Homo sapiens: one gene and its partners. The protein of the gene in region 4 purifies or fractionates together with the protein of the main gene of each other region. This does not show direct contact. Each region holds a gene or a part of one and is shown on either strand. Other genes may lie near its edges.

What was found.
Region 1: the proteins of HS2ST1 (region 4) and CDS2 purify together in Homo sapiens (affinity purification with mass spectrometry; one large-scale study listed by BioGRID and IntAct). This does not show direct contact.
Region 2: the proteins of HS2ST1 (region 4) and NMNAT3 purify together in Homo sapiens (affinity purification with mass spectrometry; 3 studies listed by BioGRID and IntAct, with this or other methods). This does not show direct contact.
Region 3: the proteins of HS2ST1 (region 4) and CKAP4 purify together in Homo sapiens (affinity purification with mass spectrometry; 3 studies listed by BioGRID and IntAct, with this or other methods). This does not show direct contact.
Region 5: the proteins of HS2ST1 (region 4) and DYM purify together in Homo sapiens (affinity purification with mass spectrometry; 4 studies listed by BioGRID and IntAct, with this or other methods). This does not show direct contact.
Region 6: the proteins of HS2ST1 (region 4) and AGPAT5 purify together in Homo sapiens (affinity purification with mass spectrometry; one large-scale study listed by BioGRID and IntAct). This does not show direct contact.
Region 7: the proteins of HS2ST1 (region 4) and MAGEA10 purify together in Homo sapiens (co-immunoprecipitation; one large-scale study listed by IntAct). This does not show direct contact.

What each region holds. Positions count from the first base shown.
Region 1 is NC_000020.11:5,125,519-5,129,807, forward strand, and holds the start of CDS2 (phosphatidate cytidylyltransferase 2), read left to right. Parts: upstream 1-1,489; 5' UTR 1,490-1,574; coding exon 1,575-1,631; intron 1,632-4,289. UniProt on the Homo sapiens protein: Catalyzes the conversion of phosphatidic acid (PA) to CDP-diacylglycerol (CDP-DAG), an essential intermediate in the synthesis of phosphatidylglycerol, cardiolipin and phosphatidylinositol.
Region 2 is NC_000003.12:139,629,473-139,632,972, reverse strand, and holds part of NMNAT3 (nicotinamide/nicotinic acid mononucleotide adenylyltransferase 3), read left to right. Parts: intron 1-3,500. UniProt on the Homo sapiens protein: Catalyzes the formation of NAD(+) from nicotinamide mononucleotide (NMN) and ATP. Can also use the deamidated form; nicotinic acid mononucleotide (NaMN) as substrate with the same efficiency. Can use triazofurin monophosphate (TrMP) as substrate.
Region 3 is NC_000012.12:106,245,221-106,249,167, forward strand, and holds the start of CKAP4 (cytoskeleton-associated protein 4), read right to left. Parts: upstream 2,801-3,947; 5' UTR 2,632-2,800; coding exon 2,149-2,631; intron 1-2,148. UniProt on the Homo sapiens protein: Mediates the anchoring of the endoplasmic reticulum to microtubules. High-affinity epithelial cell surface receptor for the FZD8-related low molecular weight sialoglycopeptide APF/antiproliferative factor.
Region 4 is NC_000001.11:87,071,635-87,075,134, reverse strand, and holds part of HS2ST1 (heparan sulfate 2-O-sulfotransferase 1), read right to left. Parts: intron 2,202-3,500; coding exon 1,963-2,201; intron 1-1,962. UniProt on the Homo sapiens protein: Catalyzes the transfer of a sulfo group from 3'-phospho-5'-adenylyl sulfate (PAPS) to the 2-OH position of iduronic acid (IdoA) or glucuronic acid (GlcA) within the heparan sulfate (HS) chain and participates in HS biosynthesis.
Region 5 is NC_000018.10:49,377,146-49,380,645, reverse strand, and holds part of DYM (dymeclin), read left to right. Parts: intron 1-887; coding exon 888-981; intron 982-1,945; coding exon 1,946-2,079; intron 2,080-3,500. UniProt on the Homo sapiens protein: Necessary for correct organization of Golgi apparatus. Involved in bone development.
Region 6 is NC_000008.11:6,729,142-6,732,641, forward strand, and holds part of AGPAT5 (1-acyl-sn-glycerol-3-phosphate acyltransferase epsilon), read left to right. Parts: intron 1-1,569; coding exon 1,570-1,685; intron 1,686-3,419; coding exon 3,420-3,500. UniProt on the Homo sapiens protein: Converts 1-acyl-sn-glycerol-3-phosphate (lysophosphatidic acid or LPA) into 1,2-diacyl-sn-glycerol-3-phosphate (phosphatidic acid or PA) by incorporating an acyl moiety at the sn-2 position of the glycerol backbone.
Region 7 is NC_000023.11:152,135,778-152,139,947, reverse strand, and holds the start of MAGEA10 (melanoma-associated antigen 10), read left to right. Parts: upstream 1-1,370; 5' UTR 1,371-1,473; intron 1,474-2,978; 5' UTR 2,979-3,077; intron 3,078-3,867; exon of another isoform or gene 3,868-3,958; intron 3,959-4,113; 5' UTR 4,114-4,170. UniProt on the Homo sapiens protein: Not known, though may play a role in embryonal development and tumor transformation or aspects of tumor progression.

The DNA of each region.
Region 1 (4,289 bases), on a different chromosome or scaffold from region 4:
TATTTTTTTAAAAAACGAAATTGCAATTCTTTTGTGTGCAAGTGTCTCATTGTGAGATTACAGTATGCTTAAGTTGGGGACGCAGTGTTATATGTGTTTTACATCACTTACAGGGCAGTGAATAGAAAGAACAGGAAACACCAAAGGCAATGCTGGAGCAACACAAGTATTAATAAATGCAGGCAGGCAGTATAGTATGGTGGTTAGAGTGTGGGCTGGTAACAAACCTGTTTGTGTTCTAATTCTTACTAGGCACTTTCTAGCTGGGAGACCTTGGCTAAGGTCCTTTTAAAAGTTTTAAATCCATCCAACAAGTACTTACAATGGATGTGTCAAAGACATAGAGGATGCACAGTAAACAAAGTAGACAGCACTTCTGTCCCAAAAAAGGTCTTTCCATAGTCCAGAAGACAAATTTGAAAAACTGAGGAAGGGCCAGGCTCGGTGGCTCACGCCTGTAATCCCAGCACTTTGGAAGGCGGAGGCGGACGGATCACCTGAGGTCAGGAGTTCGAGACCAGCCTGACCAATATGGTGAAACCCCGTCTCTACTAAAAATACAAAAGTTAGCCGGGCGTGGTGGCGCGCACCTTGGAATTGTTTGCGCCCGGGAGGCAGAGGTTGCAGTGAGTCGAGATCATGCCACTGCACTCCAGCCTGGGCGACAGAGCGAGACTCCGTCACAAAACAAACAAACAAACGAACAAACAAACAAACCACTGAGGAAGATCTTAACTGTAAAATTCAAATCATACCCACTTCCAAGCCATGTGTGGATTAAACGAGATAAGCCAACTAAAGCGATTACTCAGCTCAGTGCCTAGTATACAATTAGTGCTTAACAAGTACTAGCGACCGCTTGGCAAAGCAAAGCAGACTGAAGCGTGGGTTTCATTTCTCATCATGTGATAAGTGATAAAATGCTCTTAACCAGGTCGGCTCACCTGGCCTTTCCATTCGACCTAAATAACGTCTACTTACTTGCGTAAGGGAAGAGCTCTGGCCCAGGTCAGCAAGCATTTGTCAGGCTAGAGCCTCCGGGTGGCGCTTCTCGCCCTCAGTAACCGGTTACCTCCAGAACCAGGGCGCCAGCTCCGGCCATCCGCGGTTAAGCGGGAGCTCCCATTGGCTAATCGCACACTGAAACGCACGCCTTTTCCCGCCCCTGACGCTGCCGTCCAATGCGCGCCTCTCGACTCTGCTCCGCCCCGCCCCGCCCCCGTCGCCCTGCCTCCCTGGCGTATTTGCGCCATTGGTGGATATTCCGGACCGTGATGGTGGCGCTGCGCGTGCGCACTCGCTCCGAGCCCTGCTCCCGGGAGAGGGAGCTCTCGGGTCGGGGCTAGGGAAGGCTGACCCCGCTCGGCCCGGGTGAAAGGGCGGTGACGGCACTGGGTGGGGCCGAGCTCCAGGGCTGGCTGCTGGGCTGCTAAGGGAACTGTGAGCCGCTCAGAGCCGCGCGCCTCCCGGGCGGGGCGGGGCCGGCCGTGGGAGTCCGCGCGTGCCCGCGCCGAGCTGCCTGCTCCGGCGGCTTCGCTGCTAGCTCGCGGCGACGTCGGGCCGATTTTCCCAGGATGACAGAGCTGAGGCAGAGGGTGGCCCATGAGCCGGTTGCGCCACCCGAGGACAAGGTAGCGGCAGCGTCGGGGTGGGCGCGGCCGGGACAGCGGCGCATCCGGGAGGCCTGCGGGGGACGCGCGCAGAGGGGTCGTCTTGTTCTCTGACCCTTTGTCGCAGCCGACGGCGGCCCCGGGCCCGGGTAGCGCGAAGGGCCCTCGGGTGCCCGGCCTTCGCGGCGCGCGCGTCAGGGGTCGGCGGGTCGGGGTCCCGGCTCAGGGTCTGACTGAAGTGGCTCCCCCGGGGCGCAGGAAGGAGCTTCTCGGGAGTGGCGCACGGCCTCCTGCCTCGCTGGGCTGGCTGCGGGGACTCCCCTCTCCCCCAACTCCGTGAGGCCTTCCTGGAGGTGAAGATATGCAGAGCCTTCTTAGGGAGGCGGCTCCTCTGAGCGCAACTTAGGCTCTCCGTTCCCTTTTACAATGTTATTATTTTGGGGGGTGGGGGAATCAGGACAAGGCCATAGCATTTGCCTCCTGGGAGATGTAAATCCCTTCTTGGGCATGAAATCATCGGCTTTGAGCAAAGGGGTGTTACCCAGTGAGCCAGTCCGTCATCAGCAGGTGTTGGAGGGCGTCCTCCCGGTTGATGGGTTGTTTCCTGCACCGTGTGGGCTCTGGTGGGTAGGGGAGGAGAGTAGGAAGGAGGCCATCTTGGCGGGGACAGTGGCGGGGGTGACGGGTGGGGGAGTGGACTCCTTTGGGTGAAGTGAAAGATCTGTGTAGGGGAGTTAAGGAAGGTAGGGATTGGTTTTATTACTGTGGAGGTTGAATGGCAGTATAGGACTTTGTAGCAGTAGTTGTGCTTTCCGAGATAGCAGTGATCAGGAGCCCTGTGTTTGGGAAACTGATCAGACAGTGATGTGTAGAAGGGACTGAGGGAGCCTGGACCAGACTGAGGGAGCCTGGTTCACTCGGGATTGCCCATGAGTGACCTGTAGATGTTTTCTTTGGCCCACATATTGCCTTAAAAATCAGAAAGTTTCTCCTAACAATCTAAATTTCTTGCCTGTCTTAGATAATTGGAGGGTCCACCATCACTTTGTCACCTGCTCAATGGTTGGCTGGAGCTGAGGATCATCGGTTCCCACCAATCCCTGTTGCCTTACACCAGGCTCACGGCTTCCCCTAATGCAGCCTGTAACTTTTTGATGACTGGACGCAACGGACATTAGGGAGACACCCAGAAGGAAGAAAGCACAAGATTTGGTGACAGGATGTCAACAGAGCAGTTACACTAGGAGGAATGTTTTTGGTGAAAGATAATGAGATCATGGGTTTTTTTTAAACAACTTTCGTGTTATTGCAGTTGACAGTGGACTATCCAAAGAGAACTGTTCCTACCGATTTTTAGAACATATATTTTGGCCAGGCACAGTGCTGCTCGCCTGTAATCCTAGCTTCTAGGGAGGCTGAGGCAGGAGGATCGCTTGAGCCCAGGAGTTTGAGACCCTGTCTCAAAAAACAAAAACAAAAACATATTTTGGAGAACATTTAGGGCTGGGGCTGAGGATTTAGCAGTCGCTTGCAGAGACAAGATACTTTGAAGTCTCTAATTTTTCATTTGGCTATCCTGGTTCAGCCTGAAAGAATTCTGACTTACCTTGTACTACTAGTTGGTGAGTATGCAGATGTTTGGAGGCTCTGTAGCTCTGTTTAAGGGTGAGATCATGCTTGATGTTAGTGGGACTTTGTGGACCTAGAAGGTGTGAGGAGAGAGAGAAGAAAGAAGGCATGATAGCTGGTGGGCCATGTTTTTGAAAAGCTAACTATGTACAATAATTAGAATGTCAAAAAACAACCTTGGGATTATGAGATGCAACATAAAGATTCTACCCTCCTTCCCGGACTCGTTGGATCCATCCCCCAGAGATAAAGTGCGAGTTGAACCGTCTTACTTTCACATCCTGTACTTTAGACTGGGAGGACCTGAGGAGCTGTCCAGCTAGAGGTGCACTTATATCACTTATACAGTGACAGAATGCCTGGGGTCATGAGGTCCACTTGTGGCGTGTTGTTTCCTAAAAGACAGCTGCTATGCACTCTGTTAAAAGCCTGATGTTCATTACCGAGAACAAGACAATCAGTTCCTCACCCCATTATTCAGAACTTCTCAATTGTCACTGAATTGTCATGTATGGGATTTTATTATTATTATTTTTTTAGACGGAGTCTCTCTCTGTCGCCCAGGCTGGAGTGCAGTGGCACGATCTCAGCTCACTGCAACCTCTGCCTCCCAGGTTCAAGCTAGTCTCCTGCCTCAGCCTCCTGAGTAGCTGGGACTATAGGCATCCGCCACCACGCTCGGCTAATTTTTTTTTTTTTTTTTGAGAGGGAGTTTCGCTCTTTTGCCCAGGCTGGAGTGCAATGGCATGATGTTGGCTCATCGCAACCTCTACCTCCCAGGTTCAAGCAATTCTCCTGCCTCAGCCGCCCGAGTAGCTGGGACTGCAGGCGTGTGCTACCATGCCCGGCTAATGTTGTATTTTTAGTAGAGGCACGGCTTCTCAATGTTGGTCAGGCTGGCCTCAAACTCCCAACCTTAGGTGATCCTCCCGCCTCAGCTTCCCAAAGTGCTGGGATTATAGGCATGAGCCACTGTACCTGGCGTTTTTTTTTTTGTATTTTTAGTAGAGATGGGGTTTCACTGTATTGGCCAGGCTGGTCTTGAACTCC
Region 2 (3,500 bases), on a different chromosome or scaffold from region 4:
GTTTAGCCCCGTTGCTGCCCTCTTTATGGGGGCCTTCATGATAAAACTGAGTAATCCAGGCTACCCTCCTCATTTCAAGATTCTTTATGTAATCACATCTGTAAAGTCCCTTTTGCCATGTAATATAACATATTCACAGGTTCCAAGGATTAGGACACGGTCATTTTCAGGAGCCAATTATTCAGCCTCTTGCAGTGAGGTGTTAAGCCCTGAGCCCTGATCCCTTACCCTGGGGGTTATTGCCTATTGAATTGTCCTTCCCATAGATGACTGGAAGCTCTTTGAGGGTGAGGGCTGCATCTGCATTGCCTCCTATTGCATCCTACTGTCCAGTAGAGGGCCTGGCCACTAGTAGATGCTTAATAAGCAGTTGTCCACTGAGTAGATGGCAGTCAGGGCAGTGCCAGAGACCAGGCTGTTGTAGAGAAACTGGACGGACTCTGAAAACCAGTGCAGTGAGCAATGTCTAGGCAGTAAAATCTGGAAGGAATTGTCTGGACTGTCTTGGCAAATGGACAGCCATCAACCTCCAGTTCTGTAGGGCAGAGGGATGACCTTGGTGTCAATGTGCAGGAGGCCAGCATATCCCTGTTGACAGGATCATGGTGGTAAAGAGGGCCCAATAGGCAAGGATGTCTTTTTTAAGTTTCAGATTGAGTCGGGTGAAGTGGGGCTTTGGGGAGGGATCTTGTGTGCCTTCAGGGAGCCAGAAAGTTCACTTTATATCTCTGGAAGGCTCATTCCATTGACTGGGACAGAACCAAAGAGAGGAGGTAGACATCTGACAAAAATACTTGGTCAGGGATAGACACTGACTCTGTTGTTCTTTCCACACACATTTCCTGAGTACCTATTGGTGCCAGGCACAGTGCTAGGAGTTGAAAGGACCAAGATGAATTTAAAAACCACTCTCTAATCACTTGAGCCCAGGAGTCTGAGGCTGCAGTGAGCTATGATTATGCCACTGCACTCCAAACTGGACAACAAAGTGGGACCCTGTCTCTTAAAAAAACAAATAAAAAATAAAAAACCTCTAAGATATTATCTTCCACTTGGAGAAGAGCAACATGCATTAAAAAAATGACAGTTCTCTGGTGAAGAAACAAAAAGGTGATAAAATATGTAACAAGTACAGAGTTAGCATGGTGGTGAGGGCAGTAGGGGGGAGGTAAATATTCCAGGGAGAAAACCTTGAAGGCAGATCATCAGGATGGCGTTTCAGGTGGTCATGACTGCTTTTGCAGAAGCAGCATGTTGTGCTTGAGGAGTGGGATGAAATGCTGTCTAGATGACTATGGAGTGGGAGGCAGTAAGCTGGGGAGGGGGCGGGAGCCAAAGGTAGAACCTGTTTGCCTTGTCTCCAGTTTAATGATAAATTCCAACAAGCCTGTACACCACATTCTCAACTTGTTAAATCCTTCAGCTGCAATTATCACTCTCTGGCCTCCATTAAATGCTTATTGATGAGAAGCCTTCCCCAATAGCAGAAGTCTCCCTCACTTGCTCCGTCTCACTAGATATTATTAGATGATAAGGGCAGATGGGACACTTTTATAGCATGCATCTTGCCTTGTGTCTGATGAGATTTGCACTCAAATTAGAGCCAGTTTATTGTCCTGGTGGATCCCTGGAGTGATTCCATTTTAGCCCTATCACTGTATTTCGCTGGGTTTGGCTTGGGAGGGTACTTAGTTGAAGCAAATTTGAGTGTACACATGGTACAGGTGCACTGACCCTGTTACTGATCCTGGGAATGTGCACTCCTGTGTCCTTCAGCCTGCGATATGGCCCAGACATAGCACAGTCACCACTAGAACAGTGTGGCTCAGTATGCCCACAGCAAAAAAAGAAAGAGAGGCACTTATTAAAGGTCATTTATTCTCCTTCTCAGCATCACACTTCATTGCTGTTGATGCCACCATTCAAACAAATTGTTCTAATTTATAGTTTCTGGGAACTTTTGGAAAAATGGATGAGAGCCCCAGGTTACCTGAGATGCTGTTACATATTTTAATGGTGCTAACAATGTATATTTTGTCAAAATGAAACAGGATTTTGAAAGACTTCATAACAGTTGTAAAAAAAAAACAGCCACCTTTTCAGATACAGTCATCACGAGGCTGCTCTTGTGAATAGCTTGGCACACTTTGCAAATATCTCATTAAACCATCCAACCTCCCTGGGAAAAAGCTAGCAGCAGCTTGTTGACTGCTTTCTTCCCACACAGTTGGGGGTATTCCTGCTGCCTCAAAGGAAGTATGGAGAGACCACGGCCCGCCTAGGCTGAGAGCTTTTCATCTTCACACTGTAGCTCAGAGTACATGCCCTCCAGCCTGCCAGTGCCCTGTTTCAGTCTTCACTGATCCCTACTCTGGGCCAGGCTCTGTGCTTCGAGCTGAAATCCCAAGAAGGAGAAAACACCACTTCCCTTCCTAAAGGGTTTACTGTCCAGTGGATAGGAAAGACACATAAGCAGGCTTTTTCAATAAAATGTCGCTTGTGGTTTATTAAAGGTAAGTCAGAGATGAGTTAACCTAAGCTAGATGTCAAAGAAGCCATCTCAGCAGCCTTCCACCCTCCCAAGTCCCAGACACTTGTATCCCCAACTCTGTGGCAGCCACAGTGAATTAGTTAATCCAGTTTCCAATCCCCTTTCCCTTACTGTTCTCACTGGAGAGGCTGTCAAGCTAAATAGATGCCTTTTCTGGCCTCTGTTGTAGCTACAGTGGCCATGTAACCTAGTTCTGGCCAATGAGACAGAAGCAAAATCTACAGGAGGTTCTAAAAAAGCTCTTGTGTTCTTGATTAAGAGGAATAGCCAATCTAGTACAGCTTCTTGCTCCTCCTTCTTGCCTTTATTGAGGTTATGATGTGACCATGAGACAGAAACTGAAAGAATTGTAGGTCATTGTTGAGCCCATGATTTCATGTCATTAGGTGCCTACTTCCAGACTTTTTGTCATGTTAGAAACAAATGAACCTCTCTTTGTTTAGACCACTGAGGTTAGGCTTCTGGTATTTGCAGCTAATATATCCCTAACTGATATAGGTACCTAGCAGGTAATTGATAAATAGTGATGAAGTAATAAATAATGTGATCATATGAATTGGATCTTAACATATTGGGATGTGCCGGGGGGTTTTCTGGTTGGAGGAAACCAAAATAGCCTGTACAGAAGGTTGAAGCAGGAAGCCATGAAGATCTCACAAAGAAGTCCTAATAGGTAGTTCATTGTTGCTAGAATATAAAGTAGGAAACTGGATGAAAGCCTGGAGAAGGAGATAACATGGGCCAAATTGAAACAGTTTCCTTTGATATAAGCAGGGTCCCAGGTTCCTGTGACTGAGCACTCTACATGTTGCCCCCAGAACTGCAGGATTACAGCTAAGACCATCACAGCAAGATGAATAATAAAGGCAATAAATGCATTCCTCCCATTGGTTTCTGTATTATCTATTACTGCATAACCAATTACATCAAAATGTAGCAGCTTAAGATA
Region 3 (3,947 bases), on a different chromosome or scaffold from region 4:
CGGGATACAGGCGAAATTCCACACCCTCCCTCTTCTGAACTTTCACAGGAGTTACCCTCAACTGACACCTCCTTATGCGCTGCACAAGTGATTCGTGTCTTTTGCTCCTTCATACCCTCCCACAAAGCCTACACAGAGCCATGCAACTGTCAGACTTTAATAAATATTATGATTGACTAGTAAGTAGGAGGATGAAAGAGAAGAAACAGAGGCTAGTCATTATACTCCAGCAGTATGTCTATTTTTTAAGAATGGTTTGACATTCAGGATAGGCAAAGCAGCACTGCCTACTTAATTCCCTTAGAAAAGTCACCTCCCTTGGCCTGCAGCGTTTAGCAGGCTGACTCATTCCAGTTGCTCTGCCAGTCTTTTTTTTTTTTTTTTTTTTTTTTGAGACGGAGTCTCACTCTGTTGCCCCGGCTGGGGTGCACTGGCAGGATTTCCGCTCACTGCAACCTCCACCTCCCGGGTTCAAGCAATTCTCCTGCCTCAACCTCCTGAGTAGCTGGGACTACAGGCATGTGCCACCACACCCCGCTAATTTTTGTATTTTTAGTAGACACAGGGTTTCACCATGTTGGCCAGGCTGCTCTCAAACTTCTGACCTCAGGTGATCCGCCCGCCTCGGCCTCCTACAGTGCCGGGATTACAGGCGTGAGCCACCACGCCCGGCCGTGCTCTGCCAGTCTTAAGAGGAAATTCCTGGTCCTGCACACTCAACAAAAGCAGAGAGCAACTTGGCAGGACAGACAGCATGCTGGGAAAAGGAGGCAGTGGCTCCGGGATCAGAAGTGGCGGGATTTTTTGTTTCAGTCTTGCAACCAACTTTCATTGAGCAATGACATAGTGGAGGGCGAATAAGATCAAAGGGGCTGTACTTGGTATGGAAAAACCACAGAAGGGTGGAAGCTAAGCACCTTCGCCTTGAGAGTTGGGTCCATCCATACCTGAAATGGACCCCTGTGGACCCTTGACGAACAGGGCAGTGGCCTAGACATTCTCGTGTGTCTGTCACTCACCAGCTGGGGACTTTGTCAACTCATTCCTCTGTCTAAACCTCAATGTTCTGCTCTGGGAAATGAAATCAAAACTGTTAGTCCTCCCTCCCAGGGTAGTTATAAGAATTAGATAATATGTGAGTGAGTAAGCATTCTAAACACCATATAAATGTGGCTAGAAGTATTATTCACCAGTATGATCTAGTATTTTTGGCCCTCCTCTTCCCCTAAAGCGGAAGTAGGGCCGGGCGCAGTGGCTCACGCCTGTAATCCCAGCACTTTGGGAGGCCGAGGCAGGCGGATCACTTGAGGTCAGAAGTTCGAGACCAGCCTGGCCAATACGGTGAAACTTTGTCTCTACTACTAATAAAAAATTAGCTGGGTATGGTGGCACATGTCTGTAATCCCAGCTACTCAGGAGGCTGAGGCAGGAGAATCGCTGGAACCTGGGAGGCAGAGGTTGCAGTGAGCTGAGATCGTACCACTGCACTCCAGCCTGGGCGACAGAGCCAGACTCCCTCTCAAAAGAAAACCCAAAAAAGCTGAAGTAGGACTACGTCAAAGGCCCACCTGGGCAGGCTGGTCCAATACAGGACAAGGGACCTAAAGATAGATGGTATTTCATTTGGACCTGCAAATGAGTAAGAATGCCAGCTCCGGGTCTATTAAAAACCCCGCTCGGATGTCTCCCACAGGCAGAGCTGAGGTGGGGCCTTGCCTGAGGCTTCCAGGGATGCGCTGGCTTCCCTTCCAACCTCCTTTTCAGACAGCTCTGCCCATTCAGCGGTTCCTAATGCAGAAAGAATGGGCTCCCCGGAGCCTGCCGGCTTCCTTACAGGTCACCGCTAATGCCCTGTGACAGGCCCTTGGCCCACCCTGCCAGGCGGGCCTGGGCATCCTCGCGGCGGCCCATCCCTCGGGGCCGATTCCTCCGCAGCCATTAACAAAGGGGGTCTGGGGACTGCCTCGGAACTAGGGGGCCGCGTGGAGTGGGATGTCTAGGCCAGGGCCCGCCAAGGAGGAGCGGCCGGCTCCCGCCTCCGGGCCTGGGCAGGCAGCGCTAGGGGCCGGTCGGGAAGCACGAAGGAGCCCGGCCGTGGGTCCGGAGGCCGCAGTCGATGGGGACAGTTGCGGGGCCGGGGGTACCCACCTTCTGCTCGACGCCCTGCAAGCCCTGGCCCAGCTCCTCCCTCTGCCGGGAGAAGTCCTGGTGGCTGCGCCGGACCTGCTGGACCTCCTCCAGGACGTGGTGGACGCACCAGCCCGAGAAAGCGGCCGCCGCCACCAGGGCGAGGTAGAAGAGAAAGTTGAGCGCCCTGCCGAGCCTGCGCGAGCAGGACGCCGAGGACGAGGCGGCGGCGGCGGCAGCGGCGGCGGAGGCGGAGGAGGAGGAGGAGGACTTGCCGCCGCCGCCGCCGCCGCCGCGGTGGCCGCCCTTGCCGTGCGCCTGGTTCTGCGGGTGCTGCTGCGGGTGCTGCTGCGGGTGCGGCGCGGGCGGCGGCGGCGGCTGCTGCGGCGCCGGCGGCGGCTTCTTCGCCACGTCATCCGCGCCGCCCGACGGGTGGGCACCCTTCTCCGAGGGGCTCGCGGCGCCGTGGCCGCCCTTGGAGCCCCTTTGTTTGGCCGAGGGCATGGCGGGCGCGGCGGCGGCTCGGGCCGCGGGCTGGGAGGCGAGCGAGCGCGGCGCGCGGCCCGGGAAACTTGCAGGGGCTCCCCCGGGACTGGGCGAGCGGCACGCGGGCGCTGCTGGCGTCGGAGCGGCGAGAGGACGCGCGGCCGGGGAAGGAGGCCGGGCCGAGGAGGCGGGAGGAGGGGGCCTGCCTCCGCCGCCGCGGCGCCGACCCCGCCTCCCGGTAAGGGAGGCCGAGCGAGCCGAGCCGGGAGAGCTTGCCACGCACGCCGGCCCGGCGGCCCCTCCTCCCCGCCGCCACGACCCCGGAGAGGGAGGGCCGGGCGGGGTCTACGGGGGCCGGGAAGCCGGCGCGGGGGTGGCTGGGCGCGGGGCGGGGTCCCGGCGGGGTCTGCGGAGGCCGGGGTGGGCACCGAGGTGGCCGCGAGGGGAGGGGAGAAGAGCGGAGCGGAGGGGAGGGGACGCGGCCGAGGTGGGGCTGGCGGCCCGGCGGGTTCCACGCAGGCTGGGGGCGGAGGGCCAGATCGACCCCAGCCGGGGCGGCCGAGCAGGGTCCACGGGGGTCGGGGATGGGCGGCCAGGCGGGGTCGGAGGGACGAAAGCCGGGGTGAACCTGCGCCGCGGGCCAAGCGCGACCCCCTCCCTTCCCGACCTGTGCGGAGAGGAGAGAAATGAAGGGGGGCGCCCAAGGAGCCCTGGCCCCGGGAGTGGGAGTCAGCGGGTGGGAACAGATCGCCCTTCCTTTCCGCTGGGAATTGGGGGACTCCCCCTGCTTTCACTCTCCCAGCCCGCCATGGGGTTGGGCCTTGTCCTTTGCCTTGGGTTTGAAGGCGGAGACAAAAAAGGCTGTCCAAAATCCAGCCAGCTTGGGAGGCATGGTTGATGCGAGTTAGCAAAGATTCTCGACTGTGGTAAGTCTGTTCAAGGGGACGCATTCACCAAGTGTCCCCGTTAGCCAAGTTAGCCTGCTGTGGCCAGCTCTTTACTTTTTCCCCCCGAAGCCCCTTCAGCTCTGTTTTCTCTTTCGGGGTCATGAAGTTTGTCCACGGCCCCTACTCCTGACAGCCTCTGGGATGGGTGCTGCGGAGGCAGCAGCAGCCACACAGAAAGAGGCAGATCAGCGTTGTCACCCCTACTTTTGTAAAAGGAAATCTGGTATTGCCAGGCTGTGTGGTTAGCGACTCACATATGTTCTCGAAATCTCACAAAAGCCCTGTGAGGTAGAAATTATTTTACCCATTTTATAGGAAGGAAATTGAGACTGAGCGAGCCGGCTTCGGATTGGCTCAAGGTCACATATAGTCATCATTCGAACCTCA
Region 4 (3,500 bases):
ACAAAATATGATATTATTAAAATAAAAGTGTGTTATATCAGATGGGGTTCAGGGAATATTTAAAAATTATTTTTAAGAAATACAGTGCAATTTTTAGTTTACATTTAGATGAAGCTTACTAGATTAAAAGTGAAGTAAACATGAAAACATGTCACACAAAAGAAGGGGAAGCAGTAAATATAACTTGTTTGAAGAACTGCGTCTACATAGAACAAGAGATCACAAAACTGGAGATAGGGTATATAAAGAACATTTGTTAAGTAAGTTACTCTTAATTAAGATCAGGTTTTGGACTACCAGCTGATAATTTTGAAGTATGTCAGCTAATGATTAAGACTATTCTTCTGCGCTGCCCCACACAAACATTTTTTAAGTGTTGGTCATTATGCAATCCAATTGCTTTTAAGATAGCATTTATGCTTCTCTCCTGCTGTTTTTTTTTTCCTATACATAACCAACAAGTTATTAAAAGAAAAACAGAAGCTTTATCTCATCCAAATGCAACTGGGAAAATATACTACTACATGATGCCTATAAATGTCATATGTGGTGAGCTCCTCCAGATTTATATTTCATGAAAATAATGGTTGATGTCATTGCCAGACATCTTGCAGTTACCAGGACTTTGTAATGCTGAACAAACAAATTAACATTATTTTTCTAAAAAGTACTACTGAATAAATCTGAAATTATTATCTAAGCATGAATACATATTCCTTTTAAACCAAAGCATATTTTGAAAAGCAGTAATGCAAAAAGATTTAAAACCTACTACACACTGTATAAAAACAGAATATTTAGGATACTTGTCCTTGAGATACACAATATTACATAATGAATAGTTTTTATGACACACATAGCTAAAAACAACTCATGTTTCTTCTCATTCATAGAAGAGTTATTTGGTTTGGCCGACAGATGTGGAATTTTGGTTCTACAAAAAAGAGTACTCCAGGATTCTGCAAAGAGCCAAAAATTACATGGGCAGATGACATACCATATACTACTAGCCTTTACAAACAGCTCTCTAGCAAGAAAGCCAACCTTAGTCTTGTGTCTCAATGTAATTCTCTTGTTTAAGTGTAAGGATTATAGTTATGCTAAATAGTGAGATGACAGTCAATTCTGTAACAAGTTCACTGCTTTCAAACAGATAAATATCATTGTAACTACAGGACCATCACAAATATCTTTCTAATAAGCCTACTCCAATTTGGTATTTGATCCTAAGTAGTATTTGCAAACATTATCTTTCCTTCTCATGGGGTGGAATTCCCATGCCCTTCCATATTTATAGAGAGAACTTTATTTATAATTGCAGTCAAAATTCCAGGTGTGGGAGAAATGTATGCTACTACTATTAAAGAGATGAGCAAATTTTATTTCATAAGATAATTTCCTCTACTTTTCTTAAAACCATTTCACAAAATTATTTATTCATCTGTTTATCTAAAACTTCGTGAGAATTTAAAAGGTAAGATTATGTTGAAGAAGCCACAACTAAACTATATATACATTTATAAGCAATGTATATATAAACTCTCTCTGTATCTATCTCTATCTCTATCTAGTAAAGAGGGGCTGGTCACAAAATTGAATACAAGTATCCATCAAATATTTCTCCATCATAAGTTGAGACAATAATTTTTATTGCAGGGTATCATGCCAAAATTATATTTTTAAAAGGATACTATGCTCAGGAACATCAGTTTTCTCAAAAATTCAAGCTATTCATTAATTCATTTACTTCACAAATATTTGAGTACATACTATATGCAAGGAAATGTGTCAAATACTGTCAAGTAAAATTATACAAAAGTTAGCTGGCCCTCTCCCCTAAAAGGCTTATGATCCACTGAGATCAGCACTCACATCCCTTTAAAATACTTTATCCCCTTGAGCTAGAAAATTTGAGTGAGGAAGTATTAGAAAATATTTGGGCATTCCTTAAGTGGTAATTACCTGATCTTGCAATGACATCACTGGATTATTTTTGGTAGTGTTGATATGAAGGACATGGTATTTATTCTTTGCACACAGGTCATAGGCGATATTGGTAAATGAAGTGCTTGCCGTTTTGGGAACTCTGTTATAAATGATCACCATGTCCTCTTCCTCATCTAAAGTGGCATCTTGCCGAGGGCCATCCATTGTATGTCGCTGCTCAATTTCTCGGACTTCGTGTCTTGCAATAGCCCTTTCTGGAAAGAAAAACAGATACGAACTAAGTTTTTAAGGACACTATAAGGAAGTTATGAACACTGAACTTTGGACCATGATTAGAAAAGATACAAAAAAGAAAACAAAAAACAAAAGCAAAGAACCAAGGGATATGGAAAACATGGGTAAATTGCTTGGGTTTCTAAGAGGATCTAGTTGATTCTAAAACAGCTGTACAGCCTGGAACATAATCTTCCTATTCAAGAACTAGGTAAGAGCTGTTGAAGAAATGTTTTGAGGACCAAAGCTTCAGAATTCCTTATGAAGGATAATACATATGTATATCAAGAACAAAAAGGAATAAAGAGTCAACAAATGCAGAATAGCACAGACCACAGAGTACTTCAGTGCAGTTCAAAAGTCACTTTACATTCTAATAGAATTCCTACAGCCTGAACTAATTCTCAAACACACAAAGATTGCATGGAATACTAAACTTCACAGTATAAAAATGCACTTAAAAGAGAAATTACTTATAATTTAAGAAAAGGTTTTGAAATTTATTACCCGATTTAGTTATTCTCTGGTTTATAAAAATGTAGCAGGACAGTGATTATAAAGTGATTATAAATTATAAATTAAAAAACTGTAACAGGACAGTGATTATAAAGTGATTATAAATGCTAATATGACTTAACAAGAGTAGAAACAATATGACTTAGAAGGGTAGAAACAATACTACCATAAATCCTTTTTCTTTTTGGTGTTGCATTAGAAACTATGTTTAGCACATGGCTATGCTTTTCACTTAAATTTCATGGTTCCTCTAAAATTACCTATCTGCTATGTGGTTTCAAAAGCAGTTACATTTTGCTTTCTAGTATTCTCTATTTAATGCAAACTTCAGCTTCAAATATATATATTCAAATATCTATACATTCTAATATACATTCAAATATATATTTTTTCTTTTATAAATATATATGAATAAGGATGCAAGAAAAGGAGAGGAAAGAAGGAAATGAGGAGCGTGAAATCTCTAGCAAGATTGCAAATACTTTGCACGGGGATAGTTACACATATAGCACGTACTCTCTTAACCCCCAAGTCTTTGTGCAAGCTATCTCACCTATCTTGAACAATCTTCCATTTCCCCACCCAACCTTTACATTTCAACTCAATTGCTTCCCAGGGAAGCATCTGATAGCTCTGACTAGGTCAAATCATCTTTTTTTTTTTTTTTTTCGGAGACAGAGTCTCGCTTTGTCACCCAGGCTGGAGTACAGTGGTTCGAACTTGGCTCACTGCAACCTCTGCCTCCTGGGTTCAAGCAATTCTCT
Region 5 (3,500 bases), on a different chromosome or scaffold from region 4:
AGTCCAATTTCTTGATTATAGAGGTTGCTTCAACCTAGCAGTTTAAAGTCAAAGATTTGAGCCAGTTGATAAGGATGTTTCCTTGAGCAAGTAACAACCTCCAGGTGAGGATCGGTGAAATGCAAGTGATACTAGTGCTTTTCCTGGAGGGTTGGTGTGAGGATTAAATGAGTTAATGCATGTAAAGCACCTACTCTATGTTGTTCAGCATATGTTAGCTGTTGTTTCTTTTACAGATGAGAAAACTGAGGTTGGAGAAGTACAGTGATTTGTCTGAGATTCAGTATTCAGTTAATTATAGACCTGGATCTAGAAACTAAATCTTCTGATTCCTGATACAGTTGCTGAAATGCCCATCGTTTAAAGTTAAAAAAAAATTCTTTAAAGTTTTGTCTGGTCAAATAGCTCCCCTTCTAGCCACACTGCTTTGTTGATATGTTTTCTTAATTTTTCATTCAAATGATTTGTAATCTGAAGAGTGTTTTAGATTTAATAAACTTTTATAGTTTATTATATTCTATATACTGGAGACATAGATAATCAATTTTTGAGTTTTTAAAAATCTCCTTTCTAGAGAAAGATTTAGTGTGTAAGTTGAATGTGTCTATTAACTATTTTTTCCTTTATGATTTTGGATTCTGAGATAAGATGGCTACTTGTACTGTTTCTATCATTTTCATTTTGCAAATCAGTTTTTGATGTTCAGAATTAAGACCAAGAGCAGCAGTTTCTCTCATTGCTTAGTTCTCTAATTAGGTATGAAATTAACAGTAAAGTTGGTCACTGAGCAATTTTAATATGACATTTGGTTTTATAAATGTTATGATAAGCTCACTTTGATTTTAGTTCTTAAATTTAACTTTTTAAAACCTTTTCTTCTCTTGCAGTTGAAAACAATCCTCGAACAGGAAATCTTGGTGCACTAATTAAGGTCTTCCTTTCTAGAACCAAAGAACTAAAACTTTCAGCAGAATGTCAGAAGTAAGCTGGCTAATTAAACCATGTTTGCTTTATATTTAACAATGTGAATTTTAGTTTTCATTTATTGATGGAAATGGACTGTGGTCTTTTGAAAATCTCTGTGAAGGAATTATTCTCATTATTAAGAAAAAAAGGTAGAGAGGTTTTAGGTTAGTGTCTAAGTCACTGGGGTGAGATTATAGATTCGGGAATCTGATTTCAGCTTTTTAGACAATCTTTAGATTATATTCTTTAAGAAGGTGAATAATGATGTAATTATCGTTAAGAAGGTAATTCCCCTCCCCCCCATTATCACTGCTGCTGCTATCTAGTTTAAATGATGACTTAGTCTGAGTTTTATTTCATTCTACATCTGTTGCAGTTATTTCCGTTATATTCTTTACATCAATGGAAGGTTAACTTTTTATGCACTGAAGCATTTTTCAAAACCATGTTTGGATGTCAGTCTCTGAAAAGATTAAAATATTTTGCATTGTCTTGCTTATAAACAAATTACATTGAATCCAATAAAGTTTTTCTTGGGAGTTCATGGTCATTAATACAAATAAAAAGTATTTTACCGTGCTGCTGGCAATGCCTCGTCGAAAATTTTGGTTACATATTTGCATATATTCTTTTTATGTTACCACAATTTTTTAAATTTTTTGGTAGCTTTCTTCTCTTTTAATCGCATGTACGTGGTATACCTATTAAGAACAAAGAACAGTCATTCCTACAGTCATCAGTAAAGATTTTTATTAAGTAGATTCACTATGTAAAGTACATGGAATGAACTATGAAGTAAAACATAATATCACTGGTACAATGAAATAAATCATGAGCCATTAAAAGATATGGACATTATCCTAATATTACCAATAGGATGGACAAAACGGTTGTCAAATCAGGAAGAAATCATGAACTAGAAATAAACTATGGTGCTTATGTTTAAATATTGATTCTTGTATGATTTTGGTCTTTCTAGCCACATCTTCATTTGGCAGACACACAATGCTTTGTTTATTATTTGCTGTTTGCTGAAAGTGTTCATCTGTCAGATGTCAGAGGAGGAATTACAACTTCATTTTACTTATGAAGAAAAATCTCCTGGCAATTACAGTAAGTATTGTTTTTAAAGATGTTCTGGATATATCATGTGTAACATTTAAGGATAAAATTTCAGGAATAAAAGTATGATTTTGAAAATTCCAGTTATCCTTATAATTTTCATTTTAAAATGAACTTATACTGTCATTTTTTCTTTTTCTGTGTTAATTTAAATGAGTCAAGACTCAAGCGTTTTTTGTTTTTGTTTTTCGTTTTAAATAAGAAAGCTGGTGGGGTTGAAGCTTTCATTTATTTTGACTTTCATGCATGTGGATGAAGAAGAAAGTAATATAAAAAATAAAACTCACACAAATATGTATTTCTTTCAGAAAACAGAGGTGTCAGTTTTAAATATCATTGCCAAGTCAATATATTATTAAGGGAGCCAACTAGTCAGATTTTATGGTAAAGGTTACTTTCATAGCGTGCAGCAATAGCTTCTGGGTCTGAGTGTCTTTGGGACTACGACACTTTATCAGAAGTAACATTTTCAAGGACAGTTTTATGATGCCAAAGTGTCTCATCTTTTTCTGAAGATACAGGGAAAGATTACCCTTCACACAATCTTTCCTTTCTGAGGGCAAGGCAGTGTTGCCCCATAGTTTTCCGAGTTCTGTTTTCAAAATAGATCTCTGCCCTCATCAGGCTGACAGCGTCACCTGTGTGATTCAAGGTCATATGTTAACATCTCTTGTGGGAACAGGTATTGGGAGAGAACTTTGAGATGTGTATACTTTTAATGGAGGTCTGTGTGCTATGTGGATTTCATGCATATGTATAATAACACTTTCATATACCTAGGAGTAATTTTTCACTGTGGTTTCAACTGTGTTGCTAAATACGTGTTTTTAAATGTCAAAGTCAAATATTGACAAAGGGAAACAAACGTATAAAAGAGTTACTGTTCATCCAGGTCAACATCACAATGTACTGATTTTTCAGTATATCCATGTCTATGGGGAATATTTCTTAAATTCTATTATAGAATTTTTATTTATATTTTTATTTTTATTTTTTTTGAGATGGAGTCTCGCTCTGTTGCCCAGGCTGGAATGCAGTGGTGCGATCTTGGCTCACTGCAGCCTCTGCCTCCTGAGTTCAAGCAATTCTCCTGTCTCAGCCTCCTGAGTAGCTGGGACTACAGGTGCATTCCACCAAGCCCAGCTAATTTTTGTATTTTTAGTAGAGATGGGGTTTCAGCATGTTGGCCAGGCTGATCTTGAACTCCTGACCTCAAGTGATCCACCCACCTTGGCCTTCCAAAGTGCTGGGATTACAGGCATGAGCCACCGTGCCCGGCCTAGAATTTTTAAAAACAATATTATGGGGAAGTAGAAAAGATTCTGTGGAAAGTTAACCTTTTGTGCATTCAAGCATTTCTTAAAACTATTTTTAGATGGCAAAAATCTTATGGAAATTCTGGTTATATCATT
Region 6 (3,500 bases), on a different chromosome or scaffold from region 4:
TAATGGATAAGAGATTTTTCTTGGTTAATTTTTAGTATTAAAATGGCTAAATCTTTTTTGGGATATTCTGACTAGTATGGTGCATTGTCTAATAGATTTCCCATAGCTGAGAGCTAATCATCTTGTAATCTGTGGAAAACTGTCCTCTTTGGCTAAAACTTTATTGTAATTCCTCTAAATCCTCAGCTTTTATTTTCTACAGACTTTTTTTTTTTTTTAACATTTCCTTCCTCTGACTCACTCCTTTTGTTCTCATTTTCATGGCCTGAGAACATGGGTGATGATAGAATTATTCTTTTCACAGATTAACAGTTTTCTTTTCGAGTATCGTTGAGCTCATGTGTGTATTAACTAGAGAAGTCTCCCTTACATTTCATTTTTATGTTTTCTTTCTCATCAGGAGATAGTTTGTAGCCATTTACTTTCAAATCCAAGTTTCTGCGGTTCTTAAGACCTGTATCATTTGTCTCCTGAATTTCACTTCATTTCCTCTTTAAACCATGTCCTCTGTTTCCCATCTTCTGCACCCACTTTGCCACTTCCTGTTTGTTTAATTGGCAAGGGCCACTCTCTGTGTTGGAAATTTTTTCTTTTTGAAAGCTCAACTAACAACTTCTAGGAAGTTTTTTATTGCTACTGTTATCAATTCATACCATCTTACCCTTGTTTTTGCAACCCTTTGTTAATAACATATTTATTTAACTATAGTTATTAGCAGTCTGAGATCATTTTACTTGGTTACATAAGGAGCACATATATCTACCCAGCATCATTGTAAGGCATGTGAGACCTTTGTTTGATTGCTGTCCTAACCTAGTACCGAGTCCTAAAAACTCATTAGTAGAAGATGAAGTGTCCTTGCCTTTTGCTGAACATATATATACACACTGAATATTTAGTGGCAATTCATAGTTGCATTTGGCCATTTTTTGTTTATAATTTCCCCTTTCTCATTAAAAAAACTTTGTTTTCTAGACTTTAGGATTTAGAGAAGCTCATTTTGTTCCATACACATGCTGCTGTTGGATTATTTAGGTATTTTGTGACTGTATTTTATCTTTGAAATAAAAAGCCTTTCAAGAAATGCAAAAAAAAAAAGCTCAAAAAACAGAAAATGTATATTTTTTAAATATCTCAGATAGATTTAAAGAAATTTTAAACATCCTAATCATAGGACTTTTTTTTTTTTTTTTTTTTTTTTTTTTTTGGAGACGGAGTCTCGCTGTCGCCCAGGCTGGAGTGCAGTGGCGCAATCTCGGTTCACTGCAGGCTCCGCCCCCTGGGGTTCACGCCATTCTCCTGCCTCAGCCTCCCGAGTAGCTGGGACTACAGGCGCCCGCCACCTCGCCCGGCTAATTTTTTGTATTTTTAGTAGAGACGGGGTTTCACCGTGTTAGCCAGGATGGTCTCGATCTCCTGACCTCGTGATCCGCCCGCCTCGGCCTCCCAAAGTGCTGGGATTACAGGCGTGAGCCACCGCGCCCGGCCATCATAGTACTTTTGAAGCCCATTCATAGTACAACCTGTGAAGAGCCTCATGTACGCGCTAACTGGGTCCTGTCTCTGCAGTTGACTGGATTGTTGCTGACATCTTGGCCATCAGGCAGAATGCGCTAGGACATGTGCGCTACGTGCTGAAAGAAGGGTTAAAATGGCTGCCATTGTATGGGTGTTACTTTGCTCAGGTAACTTGTTTCCATGCTTTTCTCTCTATATATGTAGTTTATAAATTTTTTTTTTTTTTTTTGGAGACAGTCTCACTTTATTGCTCAGGCTGAGTGCAGTGGTGTGAACACAGCTCACTGCAGCCTTGACCTCTGGGGCTCAAGTGAACCTCCTGCCTCTGCCTCCCAAGTAGTTGGGACCGTAGGTGCCCACCATCATGCCCGGCTAAATTTTCTATTTTTTGTAGAGATGGGGGTCTCGCTGTGTTGCCCAGGCTGGTCTTGGACTCAAGCAATCTGCCTGTCTCAGCCTACCAAAATGCTGGATTATAGGTGTGAACTGCCATACCCAACCCTATAAAAATGTTATATTTTAAAATTTAACAATATACTTCATGTGAATGTATGGTTTTTAAAATGGGTTTAATAGTTTATTCTCAGTTGAAGTAATTTTGTTTGGCATTTTTAGTGGTGTGTATTTATATACGTCTGATTATCCATATGCGGTTTTCCTTCAGCATCTGTGGGGATTGGTTTTAGAACCACCACAGATACCAAAATCTAAGGTGTTCAAGACCCTCATATAGAATGGGATAGTATTTGCATATAACCTGTGCACTACTTTAAATCATCTCTAGATTACTTATAATATCTAATACATTATAAATGCCATGTAAATGGTTGTTATACTTTATTTTTTATTTGTATTATTTTAATTGTTATATTATTTTTAATTTTTATTTGTTCACATATTTTTGATCTGTGATTTGTTGAATCTGCAGATGTGGAACTCATGGATGTGAAGGGCCAGCTGCAGTAAAATGAAAGAGCAAAAATGCAAATGTACAAAGTTCAAACAAATAGGAAATTTAAAGGCATAGAATTTGATAGGCAATTACATTAAACTGTTGATAACAGTAATTAGTGATCTGTATGATATTAAAAAAAAAAAGCAAACTGTATATATAAAACTTACTTTCTCCAGTTCTGGAGGCTAGACATCCAAGATCAAGGTGTTGACAGGGTTAGTTTCTCCCAAGGCCTCTCTCCCAGGCTTGCAGACAGCATCCTTCTTCCTGTGTCCTCAGGTGGTTTTTTTCCCTGTGCCCAAGCACCGCTGGCACTGCTTCCTCTTCTTAGAAGGACTAGTTACACTGGATGACTAATCCTTCTACAGAGACTGCTAAGGTCCCACTCTGAGGCCCTTTTTTAACCTTAATTACCACCTCTAAGTCCCTCTCTCTGAATACAGTCACAGTGGGAACTATTAGGGCTTTAGTAGACTGATTTGGGGGAACACACTTCTGTCCGTAACAGTGCCACATAAATATCTTTAGCAGGATTGATTTTTTAAAATCCCTAAAGATCGTGAGACATGTTAAGGACGCTTTTTAGTGACTCTGTAATAAGTGGGTGGAAGAATTGGGAGTTAAATCCATCTGATGGATCAGGTTTTTTATTTTTAAAAATGTGTATTTAAGAAAGAAAGCATTTTCATTTTAACTGCCAACAAAACTAAACTTCATGTGTTTTCCAATACAGTGTCACATGCAGTTTTTTTGAATTATGTTGAGACAAGGCAATTTTCAGCTAAATGTTCTTTAGAAGCTAATGTTTGAAGATATTAAATATAGATTAAATTCTGAAATGTAGTTTTCATTCTGTACTTTTTGCAAGAGAAGTTGCCTTTTTGATGACTCTGGCCAATTGTTATTTTAAAAGTAAATGCTCTTTCTCCCGATTTGATTGTGGCAGCATGGAGGAATCTATGTAAAGCGCAGTGCCAAATTTAACGAGAAAGAGATGCGAAACAAGTTGCAGAGCTACGTGGACGCA
Region 7 (4,170 bases), on a different chromosome or scaffold from region 4:
CCCTAAGCAGACTGCAGAATTTCGAATTGGACCTTGTGTTTGGAGTAGGGGGAGTGGAGGACAACAGTGCATTTGCGGAGGTCCGCAGCCTGCATAGACGGCAAATAAGAGGACGAGTAGGAAGAAATATTTGAATTTCTGGCCCTGCTTTATTGCACAATCTGAGGCAACACTTCATACCACGATGCCAGTAGCCCAGTAGCTCTGGAGTGATATCAGGACAGCAGGAAAGACGGGGTTGATTGAGGGAGTATGACTCCGGAGTCTATGCTGCTAACCACCTAAAACCACCACAGTGACGACTGGTCTTAGTTGATCCTCTGCTACAAGTTAATAATTCTTTATATTAAATTTTCTTGCTCAGAAAAAAAGAGAAAAATTATTATAATAGAATATAAAGAATAGACCAGAAATAGAATAAGCAGTGAACCACACAGCGTAAGGTAGGTATTCTTTCATGAAATGTTATATATGTATTCAATATACACTTGGCAGACATTTAAAACACATATTTTTACTAGGAATGAGGGTTAGAAAACCAGACATCACTGCATTGGACTATAAAATATCAGCTAAACTCAAAACAGCAGGACCTCTCCACACCCCGATGCTCAGCCTCTTTCTTGTAGAAAATATACCCTTTAGGACAAAAAGTTTGCCAAGTCTACTTGTGGCTTGGGAAGAGCCCCGTTGGGAAGGTGTGCGTCTTCTCCCATAGGTCATTACAATCACGGGTGTTGCAGCTCCCCAGGGACCATCTGGCCTGGGAACCGCACCCATGCTCTGCAAGGGATGCAGCTGGGCAAATGATCAGAGGTGACGGAAACTGAGCATCTCCCACCCATCACTTCATCAAAGAGACAAAAGCCAGGAGGAAGACCCTCCTGAGTGAGGACCGAGGGTCCACCCACCCCTCACAAAGGGGCCACAGAATCCAGCTGAGCCCCTCTTGTCAGCCCTGGAAGACCCTGGCAATGTTGTCACCCCTACCACAACCCTCCCCTCACTGCCACCTTGGAAGACTCCGAGTCAAGAGACCTGGTTTAAGGGGAGAAGACATCCTCAGCACAAAACAGGGGTCCAGGCTTTTCCAGGCATCAAGGTCGAGACACTGAGGGATGACTGAAAGACCCCACCCCCACCCCCACCACGACCCACAGCCCCAAGATCCCCATCCCAGTTCCCACCTCCACGCCCCTCCCCACACTCATCTTCACCACCACCCCTGCCCCAACCCCATCCTCACCCGTACCCCACCCCACCCGGACTCCCACCCTCACTCCCACCCCAACTCCCACCCCAGTTCCGGCAGAATCCACTCCGCCCCTGCTGTCAACCCAGGGAAGCCCCGGGGACCGGATGTGACGCCACTAACTTACGCCTCGGGGATCAGAGAGAAGCGAGGTTCTCGTTCTGAGGGACAGGCTTGAGATCGGCTGAAGAGAGCGGGCCCAGGCTCTGTGAGGAGGCAAGGTGAGAGGCTGAGGGAGGACTGAGGACGCCCCCAACCCAGATAGAAAGCCCTAAATAATACAGCGCTGCCTCTGCTGCCAGCTCTGGACCACCTGAGGGCAGACTTCTCAGGCTGGGCTGTCACCCCCCCCCCACCCCCGCCCCCACTCTCTCCCGCCGCTTAAGCCGCAGGGGACTCTGGGAGTCAGAGCTTGGTGTGACCAGGGCCCGGCTGGTTCGGCGGGAGCCGCGCCTAGGTTCTGCCAGCATCAATGTCGGGACGCTCAGGGAGGGCTCTGCCCCTGATGTCGGCCCTGGGAAGCCCTGGTCATGGCGACCAGGAACGCAAATTCTGACGTCGGCATCTGAGGCTGACGTAGGGAAGGGGATATTGGTACCAAGAATGCGGCTTCAGGGGAGCAGAGGGAAGGCCCGGGCCCTGCTGGGAAATGAGGGAGGCATGAAGGGATCCCAGGACAGGGTGCCCACCCCACCTCTGTCTCAGACCGAGATGTCTCTTCACTCGGCCTGAGGAATCCAAGGGACGGTGACTCAGGTCTGCGGCGGGGCGTGGTAGAGGAGAACAACCCAGCCAAGAGTCAAGGGGAGGAAGAAGAGAAAGGACTCAAGGGACCTTGGAGTCCAGATCAGTGGGGACCTCAGCCCTGGGTGGTTTCAGGCACGGTGGCCCATGTGATGTGTCTTTGCTGTGCCTTTGGGGTGTCAATGAGGAGAGGGCTATGGTCTGAGGAGTGGAGCCTCAGGTCAGCAGAGGGAGGAGTCCCAGAGCCCTGAGGGAGGACTCAGCAGATCCCCGCATCTCAGAACTAGGAAATCTGTCCCTCTTATCAGCTCTGGAACCCCAGGCAGGACGGTGAGGAAGAGAAGTGGCCCCCACTTTCTCACCGGGGATCCCAGGGAGATGGTGGCTTTGGCGTGCAAGACCCATACACGATTCAGCAGGAGGGAAAGGGCTGGGCCCTGTCGGGAGTAAATCTGAATACCTGGAGGACACCCAAATAAAGGAAGTCCCCGTCTTGTCCCCCTCCCCTGCCCACCACCCCCCCCCCCCCCCCCGCCAAATGTCTGCTCCTTCTGTCAGCTTTGGGAATCCCATGCAGGTGTGATCGTGTGGTGCCCCTCCCCACTTCTGCCTGCCGGGTCTCAGGGAGGTGAGGACCTTGGTCTGAGGGTTGCTAAGAAGTTATTACAGGGTTCCACACTTGGTCAACAGAGGGAGGAGTCCCAGAATCTGCAGGACCCAAGGGGTGCCCCCTTAGTGAGGACTGGAGGTACCTGCAGCCCAGAAAGAAGGGATGTCACAGAGTCTGGCTGTCCCCTGTTCTTAGCTCTGAGGGGACCTGATCAGGATTGGCACTAAGTGGCAAGCTCAATTTTACCACAGGCAGGAAGATGAGGAACCCTCAGGGAAATGGAGTTTTGGTGTAAAGGGGAGATATCAGCCCTGGACACCCCACAGGGATGACAGGATGTGGCTCCTTCTTACTTTTGTTTTGGAATCTCAGGGAGGTGAGAACCTTGCTCTCAGAGGGTGACTCAAGTCAACACAGGGAACCCCTCTTTTCTACAGACACAGTGGGTCGCAGGATCTGACAAGAGTCCAGGTAAGGAACCTGAGGGAAATCTGAGGGTACCCCCAGCCCATAACACAGATGGGGTCCCCACAGAAATCTGCCATGACCCTACTGTCACTCTGGAGAACCCAGTCAGGGCTGTCCGCTGAGTCTCCCTGTCTTATACAAGGATCACTGGTCTCTGGGAGGGAGAGGTGTTGGTCTAAGGGAGCTGCACTCGGGTCAGCAGAGGGAGGGTCCCAGACCCTGCCAGGAGTCAAGGTGAGGACTGAGGGGACACCATTCTCCAAACGCACAGGACTCAGCCCCACCCTACCCCTTCTGTCAGCCACGGGAATTCATGGGGAACTGGGGGTAGATGGACTCCCCTCACTTCCTCTTTCCATGTCTCCTGGAGGTAGGACCTTGGTTTAAGGAAGTGGCCTCAGATCAACAAAGGGAGGGTCCCAGGTCGTATCAGGCATCAAGAAGAGGACCAAGCAGGCTCCTCACCCCAGTACACATGGACCCAGCTGAATATGGCCACCTCTTGCTGTCTTTTCTGGGAGGACCTCTGCAGTTGTGGCCAGATGTGGGTCCCCTCATGTCTTCTATTTCGTATCAGGGATGTAAGCTTTTGATCTGAGAGTTTCTTAGACCAGCAAAGGAGCAGGGTCTAGGCTTTTCCAGGAGAAAGGTGAGAGCCCCACGTGAGCACAGAGGCTCCCCACCCCAGGGTAGTGGGGAACTCACAGAGTCCAGCCCACCCTCCTGACAACACTGGGAGGCTGGGGCTGTGCTTGCAGCCTGAACCCTGAGGGCCCCTCAATTCCTCTTTCAGGAGCTCCAGGGACTGTGAGGTGAGGCCTTGGTCTAAGGCAGTGTTTTCAGGTCACAGAGCAGAAAGGGCCCAGACAGTGCCAGGAGTCAAGGTGAGGTGCATGCCCTGAATGTGTACCAAGGGCCCCACCTGCTCCAGGACAAAGTGGACCCCACTGCATCAGCTCCACCTACCCTACTGTCAGTCCTGGAGCCTTGGCCTCTGCCGGCTGCATCCTGAGGAGCCATCTCTCACTTCCTTCTTCAGGTTCTCAGGGGACAGGGAGAGCAAGAGGTCAAGAGCTGTGGGACACCACAGAGCAGC